Regions from separate parts of the Homo sapiens genome. Here region 2 is linked to region 1. The links come from fine-mapping of genetic effects on gene expression. Tissue or cell type: esophagus muscle. Region 1 holds a variant in brackets; the other region holds the start of a gene. All regions are shown on one strand. Distances are between the middles of the regions.

Region 1 (8,180 bases):
TGGCCTCTTCCACCCCACTGATTTAGAAGGTCTGAGGGTGAGGCCAGGAGTCTATATTTTAGCAAGCCTGCTGGGGGCTCTGATGCCTGCTGACCATCCCCGGGTTGTGCGAAATCAGGCTGATACATCTATCTGTAGGTCTCCCTGGCCCCCATCTGCACCACTCTCACATTTCAGTGAACAACTTTCAGCACTGTTAGTTTTCCCCTTTCTATTCGTTTATTTATTTATTTTTATTTTATTTTATTTTTTGAGATGGAGTTTCACTTTGCTGCCCAGGGTATAGTGCAGTGGCAGGATCTCAGCTCACTGCAATCTCCACCTCCTGGGTTCAACAGATTCTCGTGCCTCAGCCTCCTGAGTAGCTGGGACTACAGGCGCCCGCCACCACGCCTGGCTAATTTTGTATTTTTAGTACAGACTGGGTTTCACCATGTTGGTCAGGCTGGTCTCGAACTCCTGACCTCAGGTGATCCGCCCCCAGGTGATCCGCCCCCTCTTGGCCTCCCAAAGTGCTGGGATCACAGGTGTGAGCCACCATGCCCGGCCTTCCCCTTCCTATTTATTTATTTATTTATATTTTTTGAGACAGGGTCTCACTTTTTCCACCCAGGCTGGAGTGCAGTGGTGTGATCATGGCTTACTGCAGCCTCAACCTCCTGGGCTCAAGGGATCCTCCTACTTCAGCCTCCCAAGTAGCTGGGACTATAGGCACACATCACCACGCCTGGCTAATTTTTGTATGTTTAGTAGATACGGGGTTTCCCCATGTTGGCCAGGCTGGTCTCAAACTCCTGGCTCAAGTGATCCACCTGCCTCGGCCTCCCAAAGTGCTGGGATTACAAGCGTGAGCCACTGCAGCTGGCCCCCACTTCCTTTTTAAACAGCTTTAGTAAGATATAATTCACATACCATACAATGCACCCGTTTAAAGTGTATGATTCAGTACTTTCTAGTATATTCACAGAGTGGTACATCTATCACCACAATTTTAGAACATTTTCATCATTCCTATTTATTTATTTATTTTTTTCGAGACAGAGTTTTGCTCTGTCACCCAGGCTGGAGTTCAGTGGCGTGATCTTGGCTCACGGCAGCCTCTGACTCCCGGGTTCAAGCAATTCTTCTGCCTCAGCCTCCCGAGTAGCTGGGACTACAGGTGTGCACCACCATGCCTGGCTAATTTTTGTATTTGTAGTAGAGATGGGGTTTCACCATGTTGTCCAGGCTGCTCTCGAACTGCTGATCTCAGGTGATCTGCCCTCCTTGGCCTCCCAAAGTGCTGGGATTACAGGTGTGAGCCACCACACCTGGCCGCTTTCTATTTTTAAATTTTGAATACTGATGTTTAACTGTTTACATTTTCAAAAGGCCTCCCAGCCATGCCTGTCCCCACTGCCCCACCCAGGCAGCCATGGTTATTTATGTATTTAGGTCTTCTGTTTCCTTCCAGAATGTCTTTTTGTAGATGTGTGAAGCAAACACAAACATAGGCTGTCTATCCACACGGATGGACAAGGGTAGGGGCCTTCTCTCAGTCCCGCACTTTGCTTCTGTCTGTGACTCTTCTGTTTGGTAACAGAACCACTAGGCAGGCCCCTGGAGGGTCGGGGGGCATCTTGGGCAATAGGTTCTGCTTGCAGCAGGAGCAGGACCACGAAGCTTCCAGTCCTTACAGTCAGACGTCAGCATGGGGCTGTGGGCTCCAGGAGAGTGACATTCCTTCTCCCATACTCCCCCAACAGATCCCCGACTCTAAACTCCAGAACCTGGCTCCTGGCTCCTGGGGGTCCTGCCTGGACTTCCCTATGGCTATTTTATTTTATTTGAGATAGGTCTCACTCTGTGACCTCTGGGTCTCACTCTGTGACCCAGGCTAGAGTACAGTGGCGCCATCTCGGCTCACTGCAACCTCCACCTCCCGGGTTCAAGCGATTCTCCTGCTTCAGCTTCCCAAGCAGCTGGGATTAGAGGCATGCACTACTACACCTGGCTAATTTTTGTATTTTTAGTAGAGATGGGGTTTCACCCTGTTGCCCAGGCTAGTCTCGAACTCCTGACCTCAAGTGATCCACCCGTCTCAGCCTCCCAAAGTGCTGGGATTACAGGCGTGAGCGACCGCGCCGAACTTCCCCTATGGCTCTTATTTGCTGTCTGTCTCCCAAGACTGTGAGCTCGCCAGAACATGGTCTCTGTTTCTCTTTATTGCCACGTGCCTGGGCTCAGCAGGGGGTCTGTATGAGGCACATCCTCACAAATGTTTGTTGAATGAATGAGTGAGTCAGTCAGTCAGTCCCTGTTCTAGAGTTTAGTAACCCTAGAACTTTGAGCACTCACTACATTTCCCTGAGCCTTGGTTTTTTCTGTTGAATGGGGATGAGAATCTTGACCTCACAGGGTGGGGGTAGCATGAAATGAGGAATGGCTGTGGTCTAGTGCTGGACCTGGACCAGGGAAGGGGAAATGTTTTCCTTTCCTTCCCTTCCTGGGAAAATGACAGTAGCCTTGAGCACAGATGCTGGTCTGTCAAGTTTATCATTTCTAACTCCCATGTTCTCAGAGCCCCTCATTAAGCCAGTCAGCCTTGATAACCAGCCCGCGCGGACAGGGAGGGAGGGCAGCAGGCGCGTCCCAGGACTGGGACGACAGGGTTGGCGATGCCTACAGCCGCCAGCAGGGGCCGCAGCGCACCTGGGCTCTGAGAGCAGGCCTGGTGTGGGAGGGGAAAGGAGGTGACCAGGGGCCCAGAGGGGAGGGGCAGGGCCTCGGCCAGAGTGTGGCGGTCTGGCCAAAAGATTGATGGCACAAGCAGCCAAAGAAAAAAAAATAGATCAACTGGATTTCATCAAAATTAAAAACTTTTGAGAAGACAACCCACAGAATGGGAAAAAATATTTGCAAGGATCTTATATCTGATAGGTGACCAGTATCCAGAATATAAAGAACTCTTTTTTTTTTTTGAGACGGAGTTTCGCTCCTGTTGCCCAGGCTGGATTGCAGTGGCGCGATCTCGCCTCACTGCAACCTCTGTCTCCTGAGTTCAAGCGATTCTCCTGCCCCAGCCTCACGAGTAGCTGGGATTACAGGCGCCCGCCACCATGCCTGGCCAATTTTTTTCATATTTTTATTGGAGACGGGGTTTCACCATGTTGGCCAGGCTGGTCTCGAACTTCTGACCTCAGGTGATCCACCCGCCTCGGCCTCCCAGAGTGCTGGGATAACAGGCGTAAACCACTGTGTCCAGCCCATAAAGAACTCTTAAAACTCAACAACAGAAAGACAAACAACCCAACTCACAACTGGGCAAATAATCTGAATAGACATTTCTCCAAAGGAGAGATACAAATGGAGAACGAATATGAGGAAGCTGCTTGACATCATCAGTCACCTAAGAAAAGCATACCAAAGCCACAGCACAATACTGCCCACACCCTCCAGTATGCCGACATTAAAACCAACAGGCAGGCCGGGTGCGTTGGCTCATGCCTGTAATCCCAGCACTTTGGGAGGCCAAGGCGGGCAGATCACAAGGTCGGCAGATCACAAGGTCAGGAGTTCAATACCAACCTGGCCAATATGGTGAAACCCCGTCTCTATTAAGAATACAAAAATTAGCCGAGTGTGGTGGCAGGTGCCTGTAGTCCCAGCTACTCAGGAGGCTGAGGCGGGAGAATCGCTTGAACCTGGGAGGCGGAGGTTGCAGTGAGCTGAGATTGTGACACTGTACTGCAGCCTGGACAACAGAGCGAGACTCTGTCTAAAACAAAACAAAACAAAAAAACAGGCATAGGGCAGGTGACATCCTCCAGTGTGCCGGCATTAAAACCAAAACCAACAGGCAGAGGGCAAGTGTTGGCGAGGACCTGCAGAAGCTGGAACCTCACACATTGCTGGTGGGAATGTAAAATGGTGCTGCCACAGTGGAAAACCATTTTGGAGGTTTCTCAAAAGGTTAAACATAGAATGATCTTTTGACGGCTGGGCACGGTGGCTCACACCTATAATCTCAGCACTTTGGGAGGCCGAGGTAGGTGGATCACCTGAGGTCAGGAGTTCGAGACCAGCCTAGGCAACATGGTGAAACCCGTCTCTACTAAAAATACAAAAATTAGCCAGGTGTGGTGGTGGTGCACGCCTGTAATCCCAGCTACCCGGGAGGCTGAGGCAGGAGAATCGCTTGAACCCGGGAGGTGGAGGTTGCAGTGAGCCGAGATCATGCCACTGCACACTCCAGCCTGGGTGACAGAGTGAGATTCCATCTCAAAAAAAAAAAAAGAATTACCTTTTGACCCAGTAATTCCACTTAGACATGTACAAAAACACAGTAGATGAGTGTTTATTGCAGCACTGTTCGCAATCACCAAAAAGTGGAGACAACTGAAATGTCTACCAGCTGGTGAATGGATGAACAAAATGTGATTTATCCATTCAGTGGAATATTATTCAGCTACAAGAAGCAATGAAGTGCTGATGCAGGCTAAACACAGATGACTTGGAAGCAGCTCAGA[C/T]GAAAGAAGCCAGACACTGAAGGCCACATACTGTATGATTCCATTTATATGAGATGTGCCAAATTGGCAAGTCTATAGACAGGCAGTAGATTAGTGGTTGCCAGGGGCTGGTGAGGGGATGATGGGAAGTGACTGCTAATGAGTACAGGGTTTTTAGAGGTGATGAAAATCTTATGGACTTAGTGGTGATGGTCGCACAACTTTGTGAGTATACTAAATCACACTGAATTATATACTTTAAAAGGATGAAACTTATGCTATGTGAATTATATCTCGGTAAACTGTGCTGTTCAGCTTGAGAATTTTGTAGCGGATGGTTGGGCATTTCCCTGCAATGCTGGCCTCTTGGCAACCTCCAGGATGTTGTTACGCATTTCTGCCCAATTTCCAGAACTTTTGACCTTTCTAATTCATGTTCTCATTCATTCACCCCATGATTCTTTCTCTGGGCTGGAATGTAATGGCCGATCTGGTGGTCGGCAGTGTGTCCAGCGAGGCAGAGCTGAGGGGCCGGGCGGTGCAGGCAGAGGCAGGGCTATTCACTGTCCCAGGGCAGTGACATGACAGATGTGAATGCAGTAAGGCACCTCTGGGCAGACACCTGTCAGGGACTTGGGAGGGGCTTCCTGCATCCACTGGAGGTTAGACCTGACCATCCTGACTTTTTGTGTCATGTACAACTTATGCACATTTTCAAAACAATTCCAAAGTTACAAACAATATCTCTGAGTAAATTAACATATTCAACAGAATGACAAATTAATGTTGTGTTACAAGTGGCCCTGCTGCAGAACCATCCAAAGCTGTGTCCCTTTCAGTGAGCTGCTGGCAGGCCTGAGGGCCATGAGGAGGGGCATGGGCAGGCCTGGGGGTTTCTGCTGATCCCTGCCTGGAGTTGGGCCTCTCGGGAGGTTGCCTGGTGACCTGTGAGATGGGGTTGTGACTGGCAGGAACCCAGGTATGAACTAAGTGCCAAGTCATTCCAGCAGCCTCCCCTCATGTGGCACAGTGAGGACAGGGACCTTGGGCAGTGGTAATATGCCAACCCGGTCCCAGCATCCCTCACTGTCCAGGGTTTAGGAAGGGTGGACTCAGGAGTTTGGGGTCTTGGGTGCATAGAACTACAGTAGCTGATACAGCCTGGGCCACCAGCTCCAAGCCCTGCAGATATCCACTCTGCCCCCTCAGTGGCCTTGTGGGACCAGCAGTGCCATGACACCATTTGTAGACAGGAAACTGAGGCCCAGGAGGTGAGGTTGTGGCAGTGCCCCCAGACTAGAGCATCTCTTCCTCAGGCAGGTGTGGCCTGGGGTGGCCTTGGGTAGGACTTGAATGGAGGCCATCAGGCCCCCGGGGTCACACTTCCAGTGGCCACAGCCCCAGCACTCGTCTTGGGCTCAGGGGTTGCCTTCAGAGCCTAGTGGAGGCCTTGCTCATTGAAATCCCATCATGATTCACCTCCAGCGGCTCAGGCTCTGCTGAGGACTGGGGAGGCGCCCAGGGTCAGCTGGACACAGTTCTCATGCTAAGACCTGCTGGCAAGGGAGATGGTGACACTTTAATTGAAGGGCGATGGGCCAGGCGTGGTGGCACACACCTGTAATCCCAGCACTTTGGGAGGCCGAGGCGGGCAGATCACGAGGTAAGGAGATCGAGACCATCCTGGCTAACATGGTGAAACCCCATCCCCACTAAAAATACAAAAAACTAGCTGGGCACAGTGGTGGGTGCCTGTAGTCCCAGCTACTTGGGAGGCAGAGGCAGGAGAATGGCTTGAACCCAGGAGATGGAGCTTGCAGTGAGCCGAGATTGCACCACTGCACTCCAGCCTGGTGACAGAGCGAGACTCTGTGTCAAATAAATAAATAAATAAATAAATAAATAAATAAATAAAAATAAAAATAAAATAAAATTGGAGGGTGATTCAGGCAGGGCTGCAAGCACAGATGAAGGTCACCAGAGAGCCCTGCAGGAACCTCTTCTCTCTGCAGAGGTGACTTTTTAGTTGGGATCTGATTGAGGAGGCAGAACCCACAATTGAGTACTGAGGACAAGGGTGTCGGGAGCAGGGAGGGAGATAGATCCAAAGTCCACGGCTGGGCTCCTGGGGTCCTCGGTGCCCTGCCCTGCCATCCAGCTTCTCCCTGGACACTCTGGTGATAGGGCAGTGGAGACAGGGAAATGGGCCCAACTGAGTCGTGGAATGGCCAGGGCTGGGACAAGCCTTTTACACCACAGAGGCTCACCTTCCCCTTGGTAAGCCGCGATGATGGGACAAATTTCCGCCGCCGGGAGCCACCGGACACTGACTCTTCCCTACATCCCCAGGAGGAGGTGCCGGTGTTGTTTCTGCTTTCCAGTTACGGAGATGGCGGAGCCCAGGTTTGAGCTCAGTGGTGGGCAGGGAGCCTAGCTGTCTTGGCTATGGGAAGGTGCCATGTCCACACCATGCCACACATGAGCTGAGAGCAGGCTCGTGTTGCGGCTGAGGCTCTCCCCTTCCCACGGCCAGACATTTGGAGGCTGGGAGGCCTTGTCCTGACAGCCATGCCATCATTCAGGTGTCCCCACACTCAGGACTCATGTTGGAGCCCTGGGCCCTTACGGTGGGGCAGGAAGACGCCAGCCCCGGTGTGGGCAGTTGGCAGAAAAGCAATAAGAATGACCCCTGACCCGGCCAGTTGCGGTGGCTCACTCCTGTAATCCCAGCACTTTGGGAAGCTGAGGCGGGTGGATCACCTGAGGTCAGGAGTTCAAGACCAGCCTGACCAACATGGTGAAACCCTGTCTCTACTAAAAATACAGAAAATTAGCCAGGCTTGGTGGTGGTTGCCTGTAATCCCAGCTACTTGGGAGGCTGGGGCAGGAGGATCACTTGAACCCAGGAGGCGGAGGTTGCAGTGAGCCAAGATAGCACCACTGTGCTCCAGCCTGGGCGACGAGAGTGAGACTCCATCTCAAAAAAAATAAAATAAAATAAAAAAAAGAATGGCCCCTGACCCGTGGGAAGACTGCTGAGCCTCCCTTGTAACAAGAGACATGGAAATTACTGGTCTTCTCCTAATCTCAAAGTCAATTAACACTCTCCATAGGAGAGGCTGCAGAATGGACACTCCCCTGCCTCAGCTGCAGGGAGTGTGAATTGGTACAGTCTCTCTTGAGTGCAATCTGACAAAAGCTATCAAAATTACAAATGCATAAACTTTTTGACCCAGTAACTTCACTTCTAGGAATTCATCCTACAGAGGGGCATGACATGAGCAAGTCACAGGCTCATTGCAGCCTTATTTGCAAAAGCAGAATGGGCTGGTTACATAAACCATGATCCCTCTGGCCAGGGGGAATGCTACACAGCTGTCAAAAAGAACAAGGACCCCTCATGTAGACTGTGTAGAAGATCTCTGAAGCATAGTGTTAGGCTGAGAAGGAAGTACTGAGCGGCGGCTTCCGCACGCTCTTCCGGTGTGAACAAACGAGGAAAATTAAGCACCTGCACTCTTGTTTGTGTGTAAACTCCAGAAATGAGAGATGGGGTTGTCTGTAAGTGGATGTGTGGTGGGGAATCAGGTAAGGGGTGTGAGAGAGGCTTTATCTTTTATACCTGTTTATACTTTTTTTTTTTCTTTGAGACAGAGTCTCACTCTGTCTCTCAGGCTGGAGTGCAGTGGCATA
Region 2 (8,170 bases), 23 kb after region 1:
GCCTGGCCTCTCTGGGCTCTGCTTTTCCAGCACTGTCCTCCCCATCTGATGCCCCTGCCAGGGTATTCTCCCCATGGTGTGACCCGGGGGGCACTCAGGCAAGTGGCCTGGCCACACTGGACCTGAGCACTAGATAGGTTGCCTGACTCCACTCAGAGGCAGAACCTGCCCCACGGGGCAATTGTGGACTGAGCTCCAGCTGGGCATGGCTAGACCCTGCTCTTCCTTCTAGCCAGTGACCCTCAATGGGCCCTGATGTGAGCAGAGGCAGTGGAGCTAGCCCCATCTCCTTTCCTCCCTTCTTTCATGAGCATTTGTTGAATGCCTTTTGTTGCCAAGACTGTTGAGCATGACCATTATGCCCATCTCACAGATGAGCAAACTGAAACCATGGTCCTGTTGCTTGCTGAGGCCCAGCTCCTGGAACTGCATCTGCATGGAGCAGGTGTGTGCCTGCACGTGCCTACTGGCTGGGTAGGCTGGAGCATAGCCTGGACTTGGGAGAAACTTTTTTCACCAAAGGGGCTCCCTGGCATTGTGGAAGCTAAGGTGATAGCTGTGGGTAGAGGTCACTGTCTCCACTCTGAGGCCTTGAGAAAGTTACTTAAAGTTGAAAAATCTCTGGGCAAGACCTCAATGTACTCATCTGTTCTAAACATCGAAGACAAATGCTGCCCCGTAATCCCAGCACTTTGGGAGGCTGAGGTGGTTGGATCACTTGAGGTCAGGAGTCCGATACCAGCCCGGCCAACATGGTGAAACCTCATCTCTACTAAAAATACAAAATTAGCTGGGCGTGGTGGTGGGCGCCTGTAATCCCAGCTACTCAGGAGGCTGAGGCAGGAGAATTGCTTGATCCTGGGAGGCAGAGGTTGCAGTGAGCTGAGCTGAGATCCCGTCACTGCACTCCAGCCTGGGCAACAAAGTGAAACTCCATCTCAAAAAAACAAAAACAAAAGCAGAAAACAAAAAACAAACCTCCAAAAGACAAATGCTGGCATCATGACCCTGGATCATGCAGCCTCAGGACACCCAGTAAAGCAGACTACAGTATTTATACTCCCCGTCTTAGCAGCAGGGAGATGGAAGCTCAGAGATATCCAGTGACCTGCCAAAGGGCATATAGCCAGTGCTGTGAAGTCCTGACTTCCAAGGTCTGTCCAAGGATCCCTCAGGCTCCATCTGCCAGGATCCCAGGAGCTGCTCCTGAGCCCAGCCTGAGATTCCTTGCAGAGGAAACTGTGACCTGTCCACTACTGACTTAGCTGTGTACCCTAATGGTCATGGGTTGGCAGAGAGAATGAGCTCTCCACCATGGGAGGTGTGTAAGCAGAGATGCGTGAATTCACCCCAAGGGCTCAGAGAGCACACAGTACTCTCTCAGGGACAGGCTGTCCCCCACTCCCCACAGCCTGGGCTGCTCCCTGCTGATTTGTGGGTGTAGCCATCCTTTCCCACGCATGTGTACAAGTGTGGGTGGGCAGCAGCCATGGGTGCTGATGAACCTTCTCCGATGCTGGCAGGTATTTTGCCCACACACTGCCAGTGTGGCCTGTTGGGAGCAGGAGGAGGCCAGATAGGTGTGTGCTGGTCTCAGAACACGCTTAGCTCTGTCCCATCCTGGTTTTCCCTTGGATAGGCTTGAACACACCCATCATGAACAGGTCTGTGGACTTGGTGCCCTTCCTAGATTGACTGAATCTACAAGGAATTGGCAGCCTTTTAAGGTGGGCAAGTCAGGATGATCAGCCCACTCTGCAGGGCCAGATACTGAGGCTCAGGAAGGACCAGGACTTGCCCAAGTTCACTCAGCTGGTTAGGGGCAAGGTTGGGGGGTCTTTAGCCTCCAAAGGGAAGACAGAAAAGATCCTTTTCCACCCCTGACCTCTACCTGGAAGACTCCTGCCCCAGGAGATGCAACTTAGATCCCTGTCCCTCAGGCCTCTCTGTCCTGCAGAGCTGGCGTCTGCTGTTTGGCCTCCTCCTCGTGTGAGCTCTGGGCTCATGCCAGCGGACTTGAGCCCCGGAATGAATGCCTGTCTCACACGGTAGATTAGATTATATAAATAACAGGCAAGTGCCAAATGCATAGCCCTACACCTAGCACACTATTTAACCACTGGCTCTCTGGGGAGAAAAGTCCTGATTTGAGGTGTTTGCCAATTTCCGCAGTGTAAATACTCCCAGCATTGCTGACTTCAGGCTACAGGGTGGCATTGCTGAACCCAGAGCTGGGAAGGGATGTTCACTGTTGCCCCTCACAAATTAGTTTCAGCCAGTGCCAGTGCCCAGCGGGGCTCCAGGAAGTCCTGCTTCTCTGGGTAACAGTTGGCCTGGCATATTCTTCCCTCTACATTGTGAAGGTGAGATATCGCCTCTGCTGGCTTTTATGCCACATGAGTTATTTTGTGCCAGGGGCTCCAAGGCCTACAGGCCCACAAGCATCTTTTCATCTCTGGAAGTGTGTGTGTATCTGATGGGGGTGCCAGCCCAGTGGGATGGGGACTGAGATGAGAATACTCTGGTATCTCCCTTGTGCCTCAGTTTCCTCACCTAGGATCATGGAGGCTGGGGTAAGGGTGAAGTGTTAGCTCAGGGCATTGCCTGGAGCAGGGCTCAGAACTTAGCAGTATGGTTACTGACACAGGTCACCTGCTGCATTAGGGCCAGAGACGCCCAAGAGAGGGCTTGTCCGTGGGGGTCTAGAGGAGGAAGGAGCTAGAGATCATGGAAGACTTCTCGGGAGAGGTGGCATCTGGCAGAGGTGGGAAGGAAGAACACTTTGGGTCAAGGGGCTTCTGGAAGCCTCTCCATATCCCATCCAAGGCATTCCAGCTCAGCTTCGGTCTTGAAAGTTCTGGGATTTAGAGCATATAACTTCTGCCTTTGGCGCCTCAGTTTGCTCTAGACTGTGAAATGGGCATAATGATCACCAGTGCCTCCCTGGGTGATGATGAGGTCCTCATGGTTCCTGGTGGTGAAGTGAGGGCAGGAAAGGACACGCTGAGCCCCACCAGGCTTAGCCCCAGGCTGGGCTCCCGAGGGCGGCGGTACCCCTGGTCCTTTTCTTCCTAGCCTGCCCATTCTGTCCTGGCACAGGGCCTTGAGGTCTAGCGCGCCGGGCTGCGGCGTGCTGAGGCGTTGAGCCTGCTGCCTCCTCTCAGGAAGAAACGGGGTCCTCCGCAGCTGACAGCCCTGCGGGGCGTTCCAAAGAACTTCAGAGGACAGGAGCGCTACCTCGAGCAAAGAACCGCGGGTGGGAGCCCAGGTAGCCGGCCCGCAGGTGGCCGCGCGCGCCTGCCAGTCAGCCAGCCCGTCCGCAGCCAGGTGGGCGTGCCAGGCCCAGCCCCCTGCGCCGGTCCGGGGCGGGGCGAACGGAGCCCCGCCCTCCCCGCGCGCCGGGTCGGAGCCGGTGCGGGAGCGGAGCCGCGCGAAGCCGGCAGGAGCACGCGGGAGCGCGGCCCCGCAGTGGCCCGGCCCGAGAGAGCAGCGCGCAGGAGCTGGAGCGGCGCCACGGCCCCCACCCCAGCGCGGACCTCGCCCGGAACTCGGACCCCGTCCTCGAAGCGTGATCTCTCCCGCCTCGCACGCCCTGGCCGCCGGGCCGCGGGCATGGACGGCGTCCGCTCGCCCTGTGAGTGCCGAGCCTCCCCTCAACGCCGCTCGCCGCCTTTGTGTGCGCGCCGCGGCGCTGCAGCCCCCTCCCCGCGCGCCCCTCCCGCGCCCCGGGCCCGCGTCCTTTGTGGAGCCGCCGCCGGGCCACTGCCTTCCTCCCACCCCCGGGCTTCCCTATCCCCTTTACAGCTGCCTCCGGGACAGCCTAGCAGAACCCTCCTGGGCCAGGGCTGGGCAGGGCGCGAGATCCCTCTGCCGGCCTCCGGGGCCCTCAGGGACACCCTAGCAGGTCCTCTCTCCCAGGGTTCCAGGGACACCACAGGCCCGTCCCTCTCCGCAGCCTGGGGCTGAGCAGGGCACGGACCCCTCCTCCCCAACCCAAGCCTCTGGTCCCGTCTGCAGCCCCCCTTTCCCAGGGCCCCCAGAGACGGCCCCCGCAGGCTCTCTCCGCGGCCGGGGCTGGGCAGGTTGCGGGCTTAGGGCGGCGTTGTCTCATCCGGCGGCCTGGGCAGGTGCGGCAGGGCCGGCGCTCACGCGGGCCTGTGTGTCCTTGGCCCACAGAGATGGACGGCGATGGCGGCCGCCGAGACGTCCCCGGCACGCTGATGGAGCCCGGGCGCGGCGCGGGGCCCGCGGGCATGGCGGAGCCTCGGGCGAAGGCGGCGCGGCCGGGGCCCCAGCGCTTTCTGCGGCGCAGCGTGGTAGAGTCGGACCAGGAGGAGCCGCCGGGCTTGGAGGCAGCCGAGGCGCCGGGCCCGCAGCCCCCGCAGCCCCTGCAGCGCCGGGTGCTTCTGCTCTGCAAGACGCGCCGCCTCATCGCGGAGCGCGCCCGCGGACGCCCCGCCGCCCCCGCGCCCGCAGCGCTGGTAGCGCAGCCGGGAGCCCCCGGAGCCCCCGCGGACGCCGGCCCCGAGCCCGTGGGCACGCAGGAGCCCGGCCCGGACCCCATCGCAGCCGCTGTCGAAACCGCGCCTGCCCCCGACGGCGGCCCCAGGGAGGAGGCGGCGGCGACCGTGAGGAAGGAGGATGAGGGGGCGGCCGAGGCGAAGCCTGAGCCCGGGCGCACTCGCCGGGACGAGCCCGAAGAGGAGGAGGACGACGAGGACGACCTCAAGGCCGTGGCCACCTCTCTGGACGGCCGCTTCCTCAAGTTCGACATCGAGCTGGGCCGCGGTTCCTTCAAGACGGTCTACAAGGGGCTGGACACGGAGACCTGGGTGGAGGTGGCCTGGTGTGAGCTGCAGGTGAGGGTGCCCCAGCCCGCAGGGGGCTTTCCGCAGGGTCTGTCCGCGAGTGCGTCCTTGGGCCTGTCCTTGCTCCTGCGCCTGGCCTTAAGAAGCCCTGGGGGCGGCGGGGCTCCATGTGTGTCACCCTCTGTGTGGATGGCTGGCAGGATGCATACCAGGTGTGCGGACGGCATGTGGGGCCTGGCTGTGTCCGTGCGCAGGTTGCGGTTTGTGAGTCAGCTGGTGGCGAGGGCAGGCCTCTGTTGTGCGTTTGGTGTAAGTGTGCACGCTGTGGGCGTAGAGAGGGTCCTGGAGAGTGGGCCTCGGAGGCTGTGTCTCTTAGGCTGCTGCTTCTCCAGTCCCGATGACCTACTTTAATGACCCAGGGAGTCTGGACTGTTGTGTCTTTGCAAAACAGTGTGGAGGCTTCAAGGCCCGGTGTGTGCAGTCAGAGTGTTTTGGGGGCTCTGGGCTGCCCATAAATTAGTACTTTCCTGTGTCCAGCAAGCCGTGGCTGCCCCAGCAGGGATACCTGCAGAGACTTCTTCTGACCCAGGGCCTGTGACCCAGAGGTGGTGCCTGGTAGAGCTCTGGGGACAGCTGGGCAAGGCCTGGAAGTGTGGTTAGTCGCCTCTGCTGCTCTGAGAGCTCCATTTGTTCACAAAATGGACGTGTGAGAGGTCTTAAAACCGAGTCATGCAGAATGCGTGTGGGGGTTTTTCTTGGCTGCAGAGGCTCTGGGCATGCATTTTTCATAATCCTGCCATCACCGTGGTGTCAGCCCCAGCCCTGCAAGATTATATAAACAGCCACCTTAGCTGTCCTGGGACAGCCTAGGAAGCAGAGGCCATGCCTGTCCAGGGGGTGTTTACAGGCCTCCCTCCTTGGAGGTGGGCAGCTGTCAGGCGTGAGCCAGTCTGGGAGAGTGCCGGCTGGAGGTGTAAGTGTACTCTGTTGGCCTGTAAAGTTAGCTGGCTGTCCAGTCCAGGCCTGAAACGGGGCTGGGGCTAGCTGGGGCAAGCTGTGTTCTGGGGCCGCTGGCCACACTGCGGGACTCTTGCATTTTTGACTCAGAAGTGGGATTCAATTGCTATATCCTCCGGCCCCGACAGGGTGGCCTGCGTGTGTGTGCAAGCCTGGATAATTCGGTGGGTGTCGACCTGTCGTCAGCCTTTCTCCCAAGACAAAGAGCTCCAGAGACCTGCCTCTCCACCACCCCTTGGTTCTGCCTTGGAGATGTGGCTTTTCAAGTTAGGGGTCAGTGGCATTGTGTGAGGTCCTTAGGAGGGACTGAACAGCTCCCCTCCCTCATGGTCCTGTAGGTTCTGATGGTACAGGAAAGGCAGTGGGTGGGGCAGGGGGCTGTGATCTGGGGGTCCTGGGGTGTGCTGGGCATTCCTGCTGCAAGGGAAAGCAGAGAGAAGAGAGGGCCTGAAAGGGGAGACGACTCTTGATTCTGGCGAGCGGTCTTCCTGCTCTTGCCCTTCTGACCGGAGCACCCTCAGGTGCTGCCTCTGCAGGGTGGTGGATGGAACAGGGGTGCTGCAGTAGGCTGGATTTGAGTTAGACCTCGGCAGCCAGAGCCTGCTGATCTGGCTGAGGCATCGCAGGCGCATGTGACTCTTGGAGCTTGTTAGTTCCCATTCCCTTTAAGGAAACGCAGGCGATTCTGTCTCTGGGTCTGTCCCCTGCAGGCATGGGGTGGAGCCTGGCCTCTGTCCAGGGGTCTCTTGCTCCTTGACTCTAGGTGGGAACAGCAACCGAGAGGTGCTTCTGGTCTATATGCTTTTTGTCTATATGTTGATGTTCCTTGCCAGGATGTTACTGGTGCCCCAAACTTGTGGTTTCCCTGCATCTCCCCCAAAAGAAGTACCTCCAACATTTGTCCCTAGTCGATGTGTGTCATTTGGGATCAGCTCTCTCTGTGCTGATCTGAGAGGGTTTTCCATGAGAGGGAGTCTGGACCTGCTTAGAATAGCCCCCTTTGCTGAGAACTTGGTGTGTGTTGGGGCTGTGCTGGAAGTCTCGTCATCACAAACTGTGAGGACTGAGGGGAACAACCCCCAAGGTCACCAGTGAGGAGATGGCAGGGCATTGTGGGATCAGGGGAGGAGGGCCCCTGCCTGTGTGTAGAGTGGTGTAGGCTGACTTTGTGCAGAGCTATTGGAAGGACTGATGGGACTGCCTGTGTGATGTCCTGGGTATGGGCCAGGGGCTGCTGGGCGTGTGGAACGGAAGAGGGTGGGGTGTAGGGCTGCAGGGAGATCAGGGGCTGTGGGAGGGGCGTTGGACTCTGCGAGGGGAGTGTGCTCCTGGGTGGGATGTGGGGTCAGGTCTCACTGAGCAGGGAAGGGTGACAGGTGGGTGCTCCTTCTCTAGGTGTGTTGGCTTTGTGTCGTGAGGGGCTCTCTTAGTCCACAGTGTGGAGATGCCATCCTGCACATGACCGCTAGCATTCTGGGCATGGGGAGGGTTCCTGGGAGTCACGCTTTACACTGTAGAGGGAGGGTCTAGGGGGATGTTGCCTTCAGCCAGGAGCCCTTCTTGGAATTGCTCTTGGCCTCTATCCCTTTCTTCCCCTACTCCCGCAGCACCTGCAGTCTGTCCAGGTGCCTGGGCTGTGTTCCCCTTTCTGCCCTCCACAGGCTGGGGGGCCTCCCTGGAGAACTGAGAGGCGCCAGTGGGGCTCACTTGTGTTTTTCAGGGTTCCCTGCCAGACGGGAGAAACGCCTTCATGTGGACCTAGTAAGCCTGGCTTAGAGGACATCTGATTTCCTTTGATAAATTAGTGTTGAAAGAACTCTGTAGAGAGGGTAATATTTATTTATCTCACATCGAAGGGCAGTGAGGTGTTTCACCTTCTGAATTCTCCAGATGTGCAAAGCTGGAACCTGCACTGTTTTTTGTGGGGGAAGCCATTTTAAAATACCTCCCTGTCATTCTTCTCTTGAATAAACTTTTATTCTTGGCAGCAGAACACATTATGGTAACAAGGAAGTAAAACACCAGAATCCCACCGCCTTCCTCCTTGCCCACATGTCCTGTGTTCCTGTGGTCATCTTTGGCCAGCCCTGGTTCCCCCACAGACCCCTGTACTGTCAGACAGGGTGCGGGGTAGCCTGGGGCTCCGTGTCGGCTCTGGGAGCGTCTGCCACCTGCCATAGCCGGCCCAGCTACCCTGGGGGTGCTGATCTGGGTCACTGGCCTGACCTTCTACAAGACCCTCCTCTAGGGGGTGGTGAGGCCACAATACAGCAACGGGGAGGTGCCTGGCGTGGTGCTGTGGCCACCCCTTGCTCTGCCACCTTCTGTTGGGTCAGCACAATCTT

The links. PIP is the estimated chance that this variant, and not a neighbour inherited with it, causes the effect.
Region 2: WNK2 starts here. The variant in region 1 is fine-mapped to the expression of WNK2 in esophagus muscle (GTEx, PIP above 0.99). The same link has a PIP of 0.9 or more in gastroesophageal junction and sigmoid colon.

Annotation. Positions count from the first base shown.
Region 1 is chr9:93,157,450-93,165,629 of GRCh38, forward strand. No RefSeq gene overlaps it. Among named protein-coding and RNA genes, the nearest start is that of WNK2, 23 kb to the right of the region's middle. RefSeq lists a silencer at 2,664-2,793. The variant C/T (reference allele first, on the strand shown) is at 4,509.
Region 2 is chr9:93,180,752-93,188,921 of GRCh38, forward strand. It overlaps WNK2 (WNK lysine deficient protein kinase 2), which reads left to right and starts at 3,388. Exons shown (of 30, transcript NM_006648.4): 1 at 3,388-3,634; 2 at 4,177-4,859. The coding sequence starts at 4,179. RefSeq lists an enhancer at 5,426-6,391.